Linked DNA regions of Homo sapiens: region 1 is linked to region 2. Evidence: fine-mapped expression QTL. A gene starts in region 2. The other region holds a variant in brackets. All regions are shown on one strand. Distances are between the middles of the regions. Region 1 overlaps VCF1 (VCP nuclear cofactor family member 1). Region 2 holds the start of VCF1 (VCP nuclear cofactor family member 1).

Region 1 (8,287 bases), 19 kb after region 2:
TTTAGTAGAGATGAGGTTTCACCATGTTGGCCAGGCTGGTCTCGAACTCCTGGCCTCAACTGATCCACCCGCCTTGGCCTCCCAAAGTGTTGAGATTACAGGCATGAGCCACTGGGCCCAGCCCTGCTTTTCAAATTAAGAAGAGAAAGCATTTGGTTCTAGATAATATACACATAGCTCTCTTTTTATGAAGTGGAATGGCTTAGTGATTAATATTTCTGTCTGAGGTGGGGGTGCTTTCTTAAGGTTATTAGTAGAAATGGTGTTTGGAGTTGTTTAGTTTCTGCCATGGGTATAAGTGAGTTGTCTCTTAAACTGACTTTGCACACTGGAAAAATAAAATGAAAGGCAGGCCTGGCTGAGAGACCAGAGCTTCTGTGCCCTTTGATGTATCATTTGAGCCCTTTGGACTAAGAAAATGAACTTCAACTTCCCCGTCCTCTGCTTCACAATTTAGTTATATCTAGCCCTTCTGCCAAAGAGAGTAGTGTGTCCTTCTGCCTTTTTGCTCTATATTCTCTCAAGACTCCTGAAAGCTTTTTCTAGTATTTCTCCCTTCTTTTCGGCTCTTCAGATTCCTTTTACCCACTGTTTCTTTCCCTGGCCTGCTAGTGGGCTCTTTTCCCCACTCACCTCCTCTCTGCCTTGTTTTCCCCTCAGCTTCCTGTGTGCCTTCTCCCTCTCCCTCCCGCCAGTCACCTTCAGTTGCCTGCAGCCACTGCTGGGACTTTCTCATCGGCCTTCCCTCCCTTACTCTCTGGATCCTGGCTTCCTCCTTGACTCTATTCAAACTTTTTGCCAGGCTCACCAATGGTCTTTCCATTCAGCAAACAGTTCCCAAACACCTGCTGTCTGCCCAGCACTGTCCTGATGCTCGAGTACCCTATGTCTTCTTCCTCTCCTTCCGGAGTTCTTTCTGTCCTCCTCGGGGGTGGTGCGTGTTCTCCTTCCTTGTCATTTCCACAGTCCTCCTGGGCCTGCCTTCCTGCTTGTTGTATTAGGAAAGCTCCCAGTAGGGCTCTGCTTTCAGATCCTTAACCTCATTCATCTCCCACAGATTCCTAGGATCCCCACTCGTAAGTATAGACCTGAGCCAGTCTTCCATGCTCAGGACCCACCTGTTCCTGCAGCCCTCATGGCTCTTGATAATCTAGCCATCACCTCTTGTGCAGTTTCCCTCTCACTCACTCCTGTCAAGGGCCCACCCACACCACACCTTGCTTTTCTGAGTTTGCTCTTGTTCCCATTGGTCATACCCTGCCTGTGAAAATTCTTCCTTATCCTCCTGGGCCCAGCTGAGACACCATTCATGTTAAGGATCCTCTCCTAGTACTCAGTCAGCATCCATTGCTGGATTCCCATCACCACAGTAGCTGTGAACTGTTGTTACCAATGGGTATGGTGCCACCATTTTCTTGATTCAGCTCAGTAAATATTTACTGAATGCTTCAGCAGCCCTAGTGGAACGCCTTGTACATAGTAAGCACACAAACATTTCTTTGCCCAGTGGTTGGATGTGAGAACAAGCTGCACCTTCCTTTTGCCAGCATGGTGCTGAGGTGGGGCCCTGGCATTTACACTTTAAAAAGCCCCTAGTGGCCAGGTGCAGTGGCTTACACTTGTAATCCTAGCACTTTGTGGGGCTGAGGCAGGAGGATATCTTGAGCCCAGGAGTTCAAGACCAGCCTGGGCAACATAGTGAGACCTCGTCTCTACAAAAAATAGCTGGGCATGGTGGCATGCGCCTGTAGTCCCAGCTGCTCAAGAGGCTGAGGCAGGAGGATCGTTTGAGCATGGGAGGTCAAGGCTTCAGTGAGTTGTAATCATGCCACTGCTCCAGCCTGAGTGACAGAGCAAGACCTTGTTTCAAAAAATGAAATAAAAAGCCCATAGGTAATTCCAAAATAGATTGTATCATGGCAGTTCTCTTCTGGGTCTTACCCAGATGTCTGCGGTTATAAGGATACAGTGGTAGGTTTTATTATTACCGAAACTAACCTAGAATCCTTTTTCACACAGATCTTCAAGACAGGACTCTTTGTATATTGTTGAGAGAGATTCTTGGCCAGAGCCTTCATAAATTTATCTTGCTTGTGTTCACAGACCTGCAAGGGGTTTTTATTTCACAGATCACACGCAGCTTTATTCTCTTTGGATTGTGTCATGAAAATAGCCTGGTCAGATGTCATGTCAGCACTAAGCCTAAATGGACAATTCAGAGAAAAGAAAATGAGCTTTGTAACCGTTGATTTGGTTAAACTGTTTGATGAGTCTGTAAGGAATCAGGATCATAAGAGTGGGATTCCTATTTGATGGTCCTTCTCAGTCCCAAAGTCTTTGGACCCTTGTTTCTCTTTTGGTAAAAGAATTTGGTGTCTTTTCGAGAACAAATGTGACAAGGTAAACACTTCTCTACTAAGATAGCAGTTTCCATTTCCAAAGCCGTGCATCATCAAGTATTGGCTTTTGCCCTCAAGCAATCTGATATTAAAAAGCTTCAACTAAGTGAGGGAAATAGGATTTTTTCCTGTTTCAAGATGTTTACTTTAGGAGACAAAAATGTTTTACTTCTGTATATATCTTAAGGCACTAATACAGACTTCAAATTTAGTTTTATGCCTTTTGGGTTAAAAGTGAAGAATGGTCTTTCCTTTATCCCATAAAGCAGATGACTTTGGTGGCTGACAGTGTTAAGATCAACTACAGTAACTTCAAAAAATTTTTTGACCCTGTTCCATAGAAATGCTTTATTTTGTAACCCAGTACATACCAAATATATTTGTGAATAATTGAAAGAAAGCTTCACAGAACAATATCCTTATGTTGCACTCTGTTGTCCTTTTTTTTTTTTTTTAATGCTGGTTGTAACCCACCAATTTGATGCTGGTTTCACTCTCAATTTGAAAAATCCTGGTCCATCTATAGATTGTGTGACACTCCCTAAGCCTCCACAGTAGTGAGAAAACTGGTCTGAATTGTCAGAAAATAGAAACCAAAGCCTCAGTAGTTTAACACTATCATTGGTCTGCTCAATGCAAGTTAATACAACTGAAGCAGCTTTAGAAGTTCTGAGGTAGTTAAGGTGAAACAATCTTCTCAAAATCATATTGGCAGTATCAATACTTTTCAGTCTCCATTTTGAAGTTAAATGTAATTGAAGACCTTACTTGGTTTCCTAGTAGCATTCTTTTTTTTTCTTTTGAAACAGAGTCTCACTTTGTCACCCAGGCTGGAGTGCAGTGGTGCCATCTCGGCTCAGTACAACCTCTGCCTCCCAGGTTCAAGCGATTCTGCTGTCTCAGCCTCCTGAGAAGCTGGGACTACAGGGATGCGCCACCACGCCCGGCTACTTTTTGTATTTTTAGTAGAGACGCGGTTTCGCCATGTTGGCCAGGCTGGTCTCGAACTCCTGGCCTCAAGTGATCTGCCTGCCTCAGCCTCCCAAAGTGCTGGGATTACAGGTGTGAGCCACCATGCCTGGCCCATGGTAGCATTCTTTAGTTCACTTACTCATTATCAGTTTCTTCCTCAAAAGAAATGTTTTTTGATAGACACTTGAGAAAATAAATTTTAAAATAAAATAGAAGATCCAAATCGTAAATATTTTGTCATATATATCCTTCCAGATTGTTTTTGGTGTATATAAATATATGTATGAATACACTTGAGAAAAACATTTTAAGAATCAACTGATATACTATATATACTGCTTAGTATGAACTGAAATGATGTAAAAAATGATGCCAAAGACTTCGATGTTAGTATATGTATGTCTCTATGATCATTGCTAATGGCTGAATAGAATTTCATCATATATGTATATTAATGGATGTAATATAATTAAACCAATTCTCTATTAGACATTTAGGTTGTTTCCAATTTTTAGCCATTATAAACAAGGCCCAGTAAACACTTTTTTTTTTTTCTTTTGAGACAGTCTTGCTTTGTTGCCAGGCTGGAGTGCAGTGGCGTGATCTCAGCTCACTGCAACCTCCGCCTCCTGGGTTCAAGTGATTCTCCTGCCTCAGCCTCCCAAGCAGCTGGGACTACAGGCACACACCACCACGCCCAGCTAATTTTTGTATTTTTAGTAGAGACGGGGTTTCACCATGTTGGCCAGGAAGGTCTCGATCTCTTGACCTCATGATCTGCCCATCTCAGCCTCCCAAAATGCTGGCATTACAGGCGTGAACCACCGCGCCCAGCCAAGATTTTTTAAATGAACTGGAAATTGCAAATCTACCTAACCCTAAAAAAAATAAAAAATAAAAAAAAATTATGTACAGAAATCTTCCCTAATCTGTTTAAAGAACTTTTGCCTTTTCTTAGAGTAGCATCACCCTTGTGCTATTATAGTACGAAATAGATATAATTTGAGATGAAAACTTGACTTACTAGAAACTGATTGTAGTTCTTGCCTTGATTTTCAGACAGTACCTGTAATGAGAAACAGTAAAGAAAACAGACTAAGAGGAAACAAAGCGTTCTGCGCGGTGGGTTTCTAATTGAGTGTAGTGACCTGTTTGTTAAATATTCATGATTCGCAAGGTGCAAGTGGCCATTCTACATTGTTATACTAGGTTAGGAGACGCCTTTGTAGAATACAATTTTTGTTTTTGACTTTGACTTCTTAAGCCTCTAAGTAAATACAGTTGCAGCTGGCTGCAAATCCTGCTATCTGACTTCATCAGCCCGGCCCATTATCATCCTTTCATGAGGTTTTTATTTTTTTATTTTTTTATTCTAGAAAGAGGGGTTGTCCCCTGCTACCTGTAGGTATTGGGGTATGTGACCATAGCTCCAATGGCCTCGGCACCATCACAAGTCTTGGTTTGAGTCTTGTTAATGATGGCAGCTTTGTGAACATTGCTTGTTTTCATTGTTTCAGATAAGTTATCTATATGCATATTATTGGATGTAATTTTTGGTCAAAAAAGGGATAGAACTAGGATTTTAAGAATCACTTTAAAATATATATCTGTAAACAGCATTTTGTTTAATTTATACATTTTTATAATAAAAATACATAATAACCACATTGCAAAAAAGTTGAAGTGTAGAAAAAGTCAAGCAGCTATAATCTTTCCATCCTAATATAACTACTGTGATTTCGTTCTTTCTTTCCAGTCTTTATTTTTTTTGAGACAGTCTCATTCCGATTGCGTAGGCTGGAGTGCGGTGGTGCAATCTTGGCTCACTGCCACCTCGACCTCCGAG[GT/T]TCAAGTGATTCCCCCACCTCAGCTTCCTGAGTAGCTGGGACTATAGGCGCGAGCCACCACGCCCAGATAATTTTTTTGTTTTGTTTTGTTTTTGAGATGGAGTCTTACTCTGTCACTAGGCTGGAGGGCAGTGGCGTGATCTCGGCTCACTGCAACCTTCACCTCCCGGGTTCAAGCGATTCTCTTGCCTCAGCCTCCCTAGTAGCTGGGACCACAGGCACACACCACCATGCCCAGCTAATTTTTGTGTTTTTAGTGGAGATGGGGTTTCACCTTGTTGGCCAGGATGGTCTCGACCTCTTGACCTCGTGATCCACCTGCCTCGGGCTCCCAAAGTGCTGGGATTACAGGCATGAGCCACCGCGCCTGGCCTTTTTTTTTTTTGAGATGAAGTCTTGCTCTTGTTGCCCAGGCTGGGTGCAATGGCGCGATCTCGGCTCACTGCAACCTCCACCCCCCAGGTTCAAGCGATCTCCTGCCTCGGCCTCCCTAGTAGCTGGGATTACAGCCGCCTGCCACCATGCCCGGCTAATTTTTGTATTTTTAATTGATACGGGGTTTCACTATGTTGGCTAGGCTGGTCTCAAAACTCCTGAGGCATGAGCCACTGCACCCGGCCAATTTTTTTGTATTTTTAATGGAGATGGGGGTTTTGCCATGTTGGCCAGGCTGGGGTTTTGCCATGTTGGCCAGGTCTCGAACTCCTGCACTCAAGCAGTCCACCTGCCTCAGCCAACCAAAGTGCTGGGATTACAAGTGTGAGGCACTGCACCTGGCCTCCAGTCTTTTTTTTCTTATGTGTAGACTTTACCTAGTTGTAAGCAGACATTTCAGAACCAATGTCTTTGCCTAAGGGAACATAAATGTGGATGTATTAAACGGCTAAGTTTTAAAAAACAATTATATGCTAGATATTAATTACTAGAATTCTTTCTCATGTGCTGAATACAATATTGTATTGCACTGTAAACACAGAAAGGTACTGCCAATTCAGTTATCAGGGTTGTCATTTATTAGAAATGCAATAGTAAAATTGTAAAATAAGGCTGGGCATGGTGGCTCATGCCTGTAATCTTTCCTGCCTGGCACTTTCAGAGGCCAAGGCAGGAGGATTGCTTGAGCTCAGGAGTTGGAGACCAGCCTGAGCAACATAGCGAGATCTTGTCTCTACTAAAAAAAAAAAAAAAAAAAAAATAACGAGGCATGGTGGCGTACGCTTGTAGTACCAGCTGCTTAGGAAGCTGAGGTGGAACAATTGCTTGAGCCCAGGAGATTGAGGCTGCAGTGAGCTTGATCCACTGCACTCGAGCCTGCGTAACAGAGTGAGACCTTGTCTCCAAAAAAAATTGTAAAATACCATAATTCTGAAATGGGTCCTTCGTGTCACCCTCCCCTTTGAGAGTCCTAGTGGTGGAAGGCGGGAATTTCTGAAAGTGACTTTTTTTTTTTTTTTTTTAAAACATGAACTGCAGAATGAAAGTGACTCTTATCAGGGATCTCCGAGTAGCCTCTCCAAGATGACTAAAACACCAAGTCATGTTAGTTACATTAAAGAAAAAGTTAGGCACGCTCATGTACACACATGTACATATGAACTGCAATAATGCCAACATAAGATAACTTGACCAGAAGTCTATTAAAGTCCTTTCAGGGTCTGTGTCCTGCAGTTACAGAATACCATTTTGTGTCTATGATGATCACAAAATTGGCATAGGCTTTTAGTTTTTATCTTCGCTTATACCCAGAAGCCATCTTATTTGTCACCTTTTTTATACTCTGTCCCAATGACTCATACATTCCCTTGGAGGCTGAGAACTGCCTTCTTTGGTTGGAAATTATTGAAATGAATGGGAAAAGCAGGTATAGAATATGTGCAAAAGAATTAGGATATAGTTGAAAGGATTTGGAGTTAGGCAGCCCGTGCTTGAACCTGGACTGGACCCATCCTCCTAGAGCTGTGTATTAAGGACAATAAACCCTGCTCAGCCTGACAGGGTGGCTGTGAGGAGAGGATGAAACGTTTTAGGAGAGCGTACTTTATCAATTCCAAAGCCCAGTATATGTCTTCATCCTCAAGCTGAACTGGAAAGGTACTCTTAATAGAGCGCTGTACATGAAACCACAGTAAAGCTCTTAAACAAAACAGCCTTATTGTGACCCTGTTTCTTTCTTCTTCCTTCCAGTCTTCAGGCAGTGACAGTGGTGGGAGCAGCAGCAGCAGCAGCAGCAGCATCAATAGCCCGGACAGGGCCAGCGGGCCGGAAGGCAGCTTGAGCCAGACCATGGCCGGATCCAGCCCTAACACGCCTCAGCCCGTGCCCGAGCAGTCCGCGCTGTGCCAAGGCCTCTACTTCCACATCAACCAGACCCTGAGGGAGGCCCACTTCCACAGCCTACAGCACCGAGGGCGGCCTCTGACATGATGTGCCGGCAGTTTCTTGCCTTCTGTGAAGGGACAGCGCTGTGCAGATTTGATATTTCAACTTACAACTTGTTTTAAAAGAAAAATTGCACACGAAAAATGCCTGTTGGCTTTTCAGTCTATATTTGAAATAACAGGTTAACAGGCAGTTGTTTACTTGTGGTTTTGCTGCACTATTGCAATTTCAAAGGGGCTTTGAAGCAATTTTTTATAGGATTCTTTTGAGGGAGGGTATCAAATCTATGTCAAGGTAGTGGTTTGAGGAAAACTCATTCTGTGTGTTGAATCCATAGTATGTCCCATTCAGACTGATTTCCAAATCTGTCAACTAGAAACTCTACTTTATGTAAAGGGCCTTTTAAAAATGCGGGATCTTCAATTTTTTTTATTCAATAAACTAGTAAAGAGTATCTAGTTTCCATGAAAAAACATAAGTTTTTTTCCAAAATATAGGAAGCTTGATTCAGTCTTGCACTGAAATTAACTGCCATACTACCTCTCAGTATGTAGATGTTCTATTGAAAGTACTCTCTCCTGTGTAACAGGAGAACAATCAGATCCAATTCAGACTGTCAGTGAAGCACACTCCCTAATAATAGTCTCTACTCTTTGTTATATATTTGTATTTCCAGAGAGAATGTCTTTT
Region 2 (8,336 bases):
ATTCTTGATGTCTTTATCTGCCTTTGTAGTAGCTGCTCTTTCCAAACCAACAGCTGGCAGTGGAAAGGTCTTCACTGTCTGTTCTGGTTTGTCCACCACCAACTTAGAATTTCTTTCTTCATTCTCTGTCTCTAACTCTTTCCCTTTAGCTTTAATTAAATCTTTGATTGGTCCTTTCATCTTTTTAGCACGTGGGAGTGTAGCTGGCTTGGACTGATAAACTTTTTGATCAGTAGGTATGGTTGGTCCTATCATCTTACAGTATGGCAAGTGGGATTTTAATCGTTTAAATGGCTTCTTACAGTAAGGACACACTTCCATTCTGGGTGGATTATCACTCATCCTATTCCTGAAAAAGGTAAATGTGAGATTATGAGAAGCACATAGTTTGTACATACCAATATTTTACTTATGTGTTGTATCTTTTAAATTCATTTGGAACAAGCTAGATGTTTGCTACTTACGGTTACAGCAAGTCAACTAGTCATTATATGAGTATAAAAAATTGTTTAAAAACCCTTAAACACGTTATTCAAGGACAGAATGGTAAAGAATAAAAAACTTAGGCCAGGAACCAAAGGTTATTTATTTATTTATTTATTTTGGAAACAGAGTCTCACTCTGTCACCCAGGCTGGAGTGCAGTGGCACAATATCTGCTCACTGCAAACTCCGCCTCCCAGGTTCAAGCAATTCTCGTCTCAGCCTCCCAAGTAGTTGGGACTACAGGGGCATGCCACCACGCCTGACTAATTTTTTGTATTTTAGTAAAGACGGGGTTTCACCGTGTCCGTGTTACCCAGACTGGTCTCGAACTCCTGAGCTCTGGCAATCCACCCACCTCAGCCCCCTAAAGTGCTGAGATTACAGGCGCGAGCTACCACGCCCACGCCCAGCCAAAGGTTACTGATTACAGCAGAGGTTTCCAAAGTGATAAATAGAATATGCACTAGGGTGTAAGAAGAAAATATTAGAATTACCACAATCAAAGAATGAGAAATGAAGCTCTACTAACATTTAGTAATATGCATATACACACACACACACACACAGATATACATAAAATGTATGCATAATGCACAAATATATACATGGCCAAGGACACAGTCCTGTTTTTCACTTATACTTTTTTTTTTTTTTTTTTGAGACAGAGTCTCACTCTGTCACCAGGCCGGAGTGCAGTGTCGGCTCACTGAAACCTCCATTTCCCAGGTTCAAGCTATTGTCCTGCCTCAGCATCCCGAGGAGCTGGGACTACAGGCATGCGCCACCACGCCAGGCTAATTTTTGTATTTTTAGTAGAGACGGGGTTTCACCATGTTGGCCAGGATGGTCTCAATCTCCTGACTTCGTGATCTGCCCGCCTTCGGCCTTCCAGTGTGCTGGGATTACAGGCGTGAGACACCACGCCTGGCCTACTTATAGTTTCTAGTACAACAGATTACTGGCAAATTAGTTTGACATCTTTGTTAAACATATACGATGTAAAAAATTAAAAAAAAAACATTTATACCATGTATATTTGTACCTGTTATTCTTTAGAGTCCAGAAAAGAAAATGTTTAATTCCAATGTTTAGTTGAAAGTTATTTCCTTTCTACATCTCTTATTCTTTCTATAAAGTTCCAGAGGGCAGGAAACATATCTATCCTGCACACAGCTGTATGTAAAAACCTAGCACTGAGCCTGGCATACAATATTTGTTCACTTAATTCTTTAGATATAAACGTTTAAATATTATTCAGTACTACAACTGATAATATCTTCTGACTACCAAAGAGATTAAAAAGGGTGACTGAAACCACTTACAAAATAGACACAATCTTCACCAATCCATTCAATAAAGCAACCAACCCACCTTATCCTGTACGAAGTCCTTCAAAACAAAACTGTTTTCTGCCAACAGATTACAGTAATCATTTTTACTTTGTTGTTGTTTGGTCTTTTTTTTTTTGAGATGGAGTCTTGCTCTATCACTCAGGCTGGAGTGCAGTGGCGCGATCTCGGCTCACAGCAACCTCAGCCTCCCAGGTTCAAACGGTTCTCCTGCCTCAGCCTCCCGCGTGGCTGGGATTACTGGGATTAAGGGCGTGCGCCACCACGCCCAGCTAATTTTAGTATTTTTAGTAGAGACGGGGTTTCACCATGTTGGCCAGGCTGGTCTTGAACTCCTGACCTCAGGTGATCCACCCGCCTCGGCCTCCCAAAGTGCTGGGACTACAGGCGTGAGCCACCGCGCCCAGCCTGCTGGGATTACAGGCGTGAGCCATCATTCTTTCTTTCTTTGGAGGTACACACTAACAGGATGAAAGCCACAGACTGTTTGTTTACAATAATACACACAAATGAAGCCAGTCCATGGACCTTCGGCTAACAACGTTAGGAAGGGCTTGACACCTGCTAGACGTTTCTGCCTCCACTCCACCTCACACTCAACCCTACTTGAAAGATCCCGGTACATTCCCACGATAACGTCTATACGTGGGTGTCTGTTTTCTTACCCGAGCTCCTCCAGGAGGATGCTAGTTTTGTGGGTGCTTCTCCCGGATCCCCATGCTTCCCCGATCACCGTTCCCGAGTGTGGCAGAATGAAACGTGAATGTCAGCCTGTGTAGGACACGATCAGACAGGTGACTTGGCAGCATGCACAGTGAGTAAACGCGGCACGATACTGAACCAAATAGAAACACAGGTTCCGGAAAGCAGAGAGTTAAGACCTCCCCAGCCTCCGGGCTCAAGGAGGACCTCAATAGTTCCACTAATCCTCACCCTCACCTCCGGCGCTCTCCAGCCGCCTTTCCCTCCTCCCGCTGCGTTACCAGCCTGCCCACCTCCCCGCACCCTTCCTTTCCCTGAAAGCTGTTCTGATTCTGCCAGCTGTTCTGATTCTGCGGAGTGGATGGGGTCGGCCCGGCAGCTCCTGGGTCAGGGACAGCCGTTCCCGCAGCCCCACCGAGGATTTCCTCCTGCGGTTCCAGGAAGACCCTCCGCCGGCCCCGGCACCCGATTCCCTACCCTCTCCGCTCAGGAGAGTCTCCCCCAGACTTAGAACGTGGGCCGCGGAAAACAAACCCGCCCTTGCAAGCTCCCCACAGAGCACCGTCCTCACCTCGGAAGACCTGAAAGCCCAGGCGGCCCCGGCGACAAGCCCCCCAGGGAAGCCCCCCAGGCCCCTGCCCAACCCCCGGCCAAGGAACCTCGTCAGGCCGTCTGCACCACTGCCGGATAGGTCCGCCTGTTTTAAAATATGTTACACGGATTCAACTCAAATACTTGTATGATATTATTATGACATAATTGAATTTATTTGAAACCTGGCTTGACTTTTATACCGTACCCTCCGTTGGCTGTGAACAGGCGAGCGCTTCTGCCACCCCAGGGGAGGTCCTTTCTCCCAGAAGCTCCTAGTCGCTCCTCCCGCTCCGAGCCCGCCTCTTCCCGTGGGCGGGGTTACCAGTCGGTGCGGTTGGGATGGTGCCACTGCGCAGCCGCGAGAGGGCGGTACCACGGCGGCAGCGACATGGGGGGGCGCGGAGCAGACGCCGGAAGTAGTGGTGGTACGGGTCCGACTGAGGGGTACTCGCCACCGGCTGCGTCCACCCGAGCGGCTGCGAGAGCCAAGGCCCGAGGGGGTGGGCGTGGCGGCCGCCGAAACACAACCCCCTCTGTTCCCTCTCTTCGCGGAGCGGCGCCGCGTAGCTTCCATCCGCCAGCTGCCATGAGCGAGCGCCTCCGTCCCAGGTGAGAGGGAAGGGACCCCCTTTCCATTCGTCGCCTGAGGATCTGGGAGATAGAGCCGAGGGGGCGCGCGAAATGGGGGTCGGAGCAAGAGTGGACCCGGCGGGGCTCCCTGTGGGGTGCACTGCGGGCCGGGGGAGGAGGGGAGAGGGATGCGCGAGTGATCGGATGCTTGGTTCCTGTGGGTAGCTGGAAGGTGACTCTCCGGGGTCCAGGTCTCCCGCCCCTCCATCTTTTTTCCCCCCTGTCTTTTCCTATTTGGAACGAAGTGTGATCGGTCCCGGAAGAGAGACGGTGGCCCTAAAGCTTTCCTGTCCTAAATTTAGGAGGGTGGGGGGATGGGATAAACGTCTCATCTTGGAGAGGGAGCCCCCAAAGGCTTTTGTGAGGGCACCGGGCGGGGAGCTGCCGGCTCCCCAAGGTCAGAAAGAAAGGTTGGGCTTAACCCCGCAGCAGGGAAAGATTCGGTTAGACCGAAGAACTTGTGCCCTGAACGGTTGTGAACACAGAAGGGCAGATGACCAAGGCGGGTTATGGATCTTCTCTTGACTGTGGCATTAAGAACAAGCTGGATTCTAAACTGTTTGGATTGCGGGGCCGTTTGACTCCGAAGGCGGGAGGAAAGATTTTATCGCGATGCACTCGCTACCTTCCCGAGGGAGCCTGGCCTCGGGACGCGGGTCTTAAATTAGGGGTTCTGTGCTTGACATGTACTACTAGAGTCCGGACTAAGTTGGGATTTCTTAATTTTTTTCTCTCTCTTAATTTCCTCTGCAAGAATGTGTGGAGGAGAAAGTTGGGAAAGGTTACCTCAGAATGCTCTTCCTGTTACGGTCTTTCCACAAGGATCCTTCTCTGAAATAATTATTTCATGTGATTGAAGTTCTCAAAAGTATTCTGAGTTTATTTGGTCCCATAGTGAAAACCTAGGGTTCCCCAAGCTGCTGCATTGGATTATTGATTTGGGTCATGTAGCAGGTGGAGCATAAAGCCTCTCCTTGTATAGAAAAGAAGAGTGGACTAAATTTGAAATTGGGGGCCCAATTACAGACATGCCATCGGAATTAGGAGCAAGATCTTTAGATACAGTGAATCTGACCCGACTGCCATATTATTCTTTCCCAAACCCAGTTTATACTTACGATATTCTCTTGGGGTGTCTCACATATCTGAAAAAAAATCTAAATATTTCCTACAAATAAAAATTCTACTGTACATAACTAATCTGAATGCATTTATACTGGCAGTAGATTCCTTTTATCTTGTACACAAATAATCTCAACATGTTTTAAAGAAGTTATTTGATTTGGACAGGCTTTTCCTGCCAGTGTTTAATGGAGTATGATGGGCCAGCTCTGCCAGCTCTAGGATGGTCTAAGACGGTGGTTTTTCGGCTGGGTGCGGTGGCTCACGCCTGTAATCCCAGCACTTTGGGAAGTCAAGGCGGGCGGATCACCTGAGGTCAGGAGTTGGAGATCACTCTGGCCAACATGGTGAAACTCTGTCTCTACTAAAAATACAAAAAAATTAGTTGGGCCTGGTGGTGGGCACCTTCATCCCAGCTACTTGGGAGGCTAAGGCAGGAGAATCGCTTGAACCTGGAAGGCGGAGGTTGCAGTGAGCGGAGATCACTGCACTCAAGCCTGAGCAACAAGAGCGAAACTTCCATCTAAAAAAAAAAAAGGGTTTTCAGGCTCTCCCACAGTAGATTGGATAGCCGCAGAGAGGTGAGTGTGTAGTGAGGGAGTCCCTGCTTATTGATTGATTGATTGGTTGATTGATTGACTGATTGATTGACAGAGTCTCACTCTGTCGACCAGGCTGGAGTGCAGTGGCCCCATCATGCCTCACTGCAGCCTCAACCTCCCAGGCTCAGGTGATCCTCCCACGTCAGCCTCCTGAGTAGCTGGAGCACAGGTGTGAGCTACCACACCCAGCTAATCTGTGTATTTTTGGTAGAGGTGGGGTTTCACTATATTGCCCAGGCTGGTCTTGAACTCCTGGGCTCAAGGGATCCACCCGCCTCGGCATCCCAAAGTGCTGGGATTACAGATGTGAGCCACCTCACCAGACTGGGAGTCCCTACTTTAACAGATCCTTTATCTCTTATATAGAGAGAATTTTTTTACAGTAAGAAAGAAAGAGTTCTGTTACTTTTTAAAATAAAGTTTGAAAACCACTAGTTTCCATACTCTTTTTTTTTTTTTTTTTTTTTTTTTTTGAGATGGAGTCTCACTGTGTCGGCCAGGCTGGAGTGCAGTGGTGCGATCTCGGCACACTGCAACCTCTACCTCCTGGGTTCAAGCAGTTCCCCTGCCTCAGCCTCCCAAGTAGCTGGGATTACAGGCACACGCCACCACGCCCTGCTAACTCTTTTGTATTTTTAGTAGAGACAGGGTTTCACCATGTGGGCCAGGCTGGTTTCGAACTCCTGACCTCAAGTGATCTGCCTGCCTCAGCCTCCCAAAGTGCTGGGATTACAGGTGTGAGTCACCGTGCCCAGCCCATACTCTTAAGATTATTTCTATGCCGAGTCTCTAGGAGATGACAGGAAGGTTGGAGAGAAATGAAATAATGCAACGTGATGGAATCAACCATCTGTAGAAGTAACAGATGCTAACTGGTAATCTGCACCTAGATGGTTAGGGAAGAATATAATCAGTTATAGGGGTGCCTGCTAAAATCATAACCTGGTCTGTGGCATTAATGCCAAAAATTGTAATCTGATTGATTGAACTGATAGGGATGAGCATGAAGCTGTAATCTTGCCAGTTGTTAACACCATTGTTGAAAGAAGAATGTTTCAAGGATGAGATCTGCTAAGAGCCTAGAAAAAGGCAAATGAAGAGCAGGTAGGACTCTTTCTTAATCTGGTACCATCCAGAGGAGAAGGCTACCAACAGGCCAAAGAGATTATTCTGGTGCCTTGAGAGATCAAGTAATTTATGAGGCAGGGATATTTCATGTGACTCTCCCAGAGATTAGTTGAAATCCACAAAATCATCTCATCTTTTTTTGTTCTTACAGTCCCTCTGCCATGCAACCTCCTTGACATTCATAGTCTTGTCCCTGGAAAGATCTATCCCCCATTATAAATGAGGAGATAGCAAATTTTGATCAGGCTCCTAAGTTTGGTTAGAGTGACTCAGCAGCCCAAAGCCCAGTCAGCTGTTGGCACGCTGATAAAATGGGTGTGTGAGGACCAGCAGCTGCTACTTACTCAATGACTTTCTCTTTGGGTGTCGACTGGCCTCCCAGCAGACATTGCTTTGCCTCTGCAGAACACTCCCACTCAAATTCCCTGATCATATTAGGATGAAATTAGCAGTTTCTTGGTTCAAATTTATGATAAAAGCACACCCATTTAATGATTATTAAAACCTGATATTCATCTATTTTTTTTTAACCTCCAACTACTTCAAAGTAATGTGCAGCTAAGATCTGATCTCCTAAGAGAAAGGTGGGGAGCAGAAATGTCTTAGAATGAAGTAAATTACATAGCCCAGTGCAGGATGGTTGAAGCTTTATCAGAACCACACACTCTTTATTATTCCAAACTTAAGCTGGGATCCATACTCATTATTAAAGTTAGACCTATTCAGAATGTTGCAGAGTACAGAGAAGTGAGCTTAGGGTGATCATTTATTTTCTCTAATATTCAAACCTCAACTCAAAACCTTTAGGATTAAAGGCCTGCCACTGTAAGCCACCCTACTCTCATAGAAAGTGTATAATTATTTAGAAGACACTATATCCTCCAAATGTACATGCTTTCCAAGAGCTGTGTGTCCACACTAGCCTTTTGTCTCTTAACTATAGAAAGCTGAAACTTCAAGGGTTTTGTAATAGGTGCTGCTGCCATGTACATACAGACCTCTAGCCTGTGCTGCTCCGGAGAACGTTCTGCAGTGACGGAAATGTCCTTTATCTGTGCTGGTCAGTGCAGTAGCCACTAGCTACACGTGGCCACTGAGCACTAGAAACAGGGCAGCTGTGACCTAGGAACTGGATGGTTAATTTTAGTTAATTTAAATGTAAATAACCATATGTGGCTAGTGGCTACCGTATTGGACAGTACAGTTCCGGGCAATTTGACTGAAAATTATACCTCCTTTAATTTATTTCTGTTTTCTAACAGGTTCAGAAATCGTTTTGACAGCACATAATTCTTAAATAGAGTACATGCAAATTTGGTCTTTCTTGCATGTCCGAGAACACTTGCCTAAGAAAGATGTGTGATTTTTCTTTAAACCTGGAAATTTTAAGCAGCTTATGCTATCATCTCATAGTAACAATCTAGTGAAGTAATTGTTATATCATAATACCGGCTAGTGTTGCCAGAATAAGCAGGTGAATGTGACCAAGAGGTACTTTTATAAGGGTTTTCAGGGCAAATAGGCAAAGGCAGCCACTCTTATATCAAATGTTGTCATATGGAAGGGAGTACAATTAGGTAACTCGGAATCCTAATTTCAGGGAGTGTAAAAAGAAGAAAACCTTAATTAGGTTAGAGGTTGAAAGCTTAGTCATTAACCTCTTCCTGTTCTTGTTTCAGTCCCAACAGACATTTAAAATTGTTAAGCTTCTTTTTAGAAATGAG

What was found. PIP is the estimated chance that this variant, and not a neighbour inherited with it, causes the effect.
Region 1: its variant is fine-mapped to the expression of VCF1 in blood mononuclear cells (TOPMed, PIP above 0.99).

The regions. Positions count from the first base shown.
Region 1 is chr17:73,208,884-73,217,170 of GRCh38, reverse strand. VCF1 (VCP nuclear cofactor family member 1) reads left to right here. Exons shown (of 4, transcript NM_001098832.2): 3 at 4,431-4,493; 4 at 7,403-8,287. The coding sequence ends at 7,642. Among named protein-coding and RNA genes, the nearest start is that of VCF1, 19 kb to the left of the region's middle. The variant GT/T (reference allele first, on the strand shown) is at 5,218.
Region 2 is chr17:73,227,489-73,235,824 of GRCh38, reverse strand. VCF1 (VCP nuclear cofactor family member 1) reads left to right here and starts at 3,431. Exons shown (of 4, transcript NM_001098832.2): 1 at 3,431-3,739. The coding sequence starts at 3,519. MTNAP1 (mitochondrial nucleoid associated protein 1) reads right to left here and starts at 3,392. Exons shown (of 6, transcript NM_001351264.2): 1 at 3,336-3,392; 2 at 2,500-2,605; 3 at 1-349. The coding sequence starts at 342. RefSeq lists enhancers at 3,938-4,714, 6,796-6,845.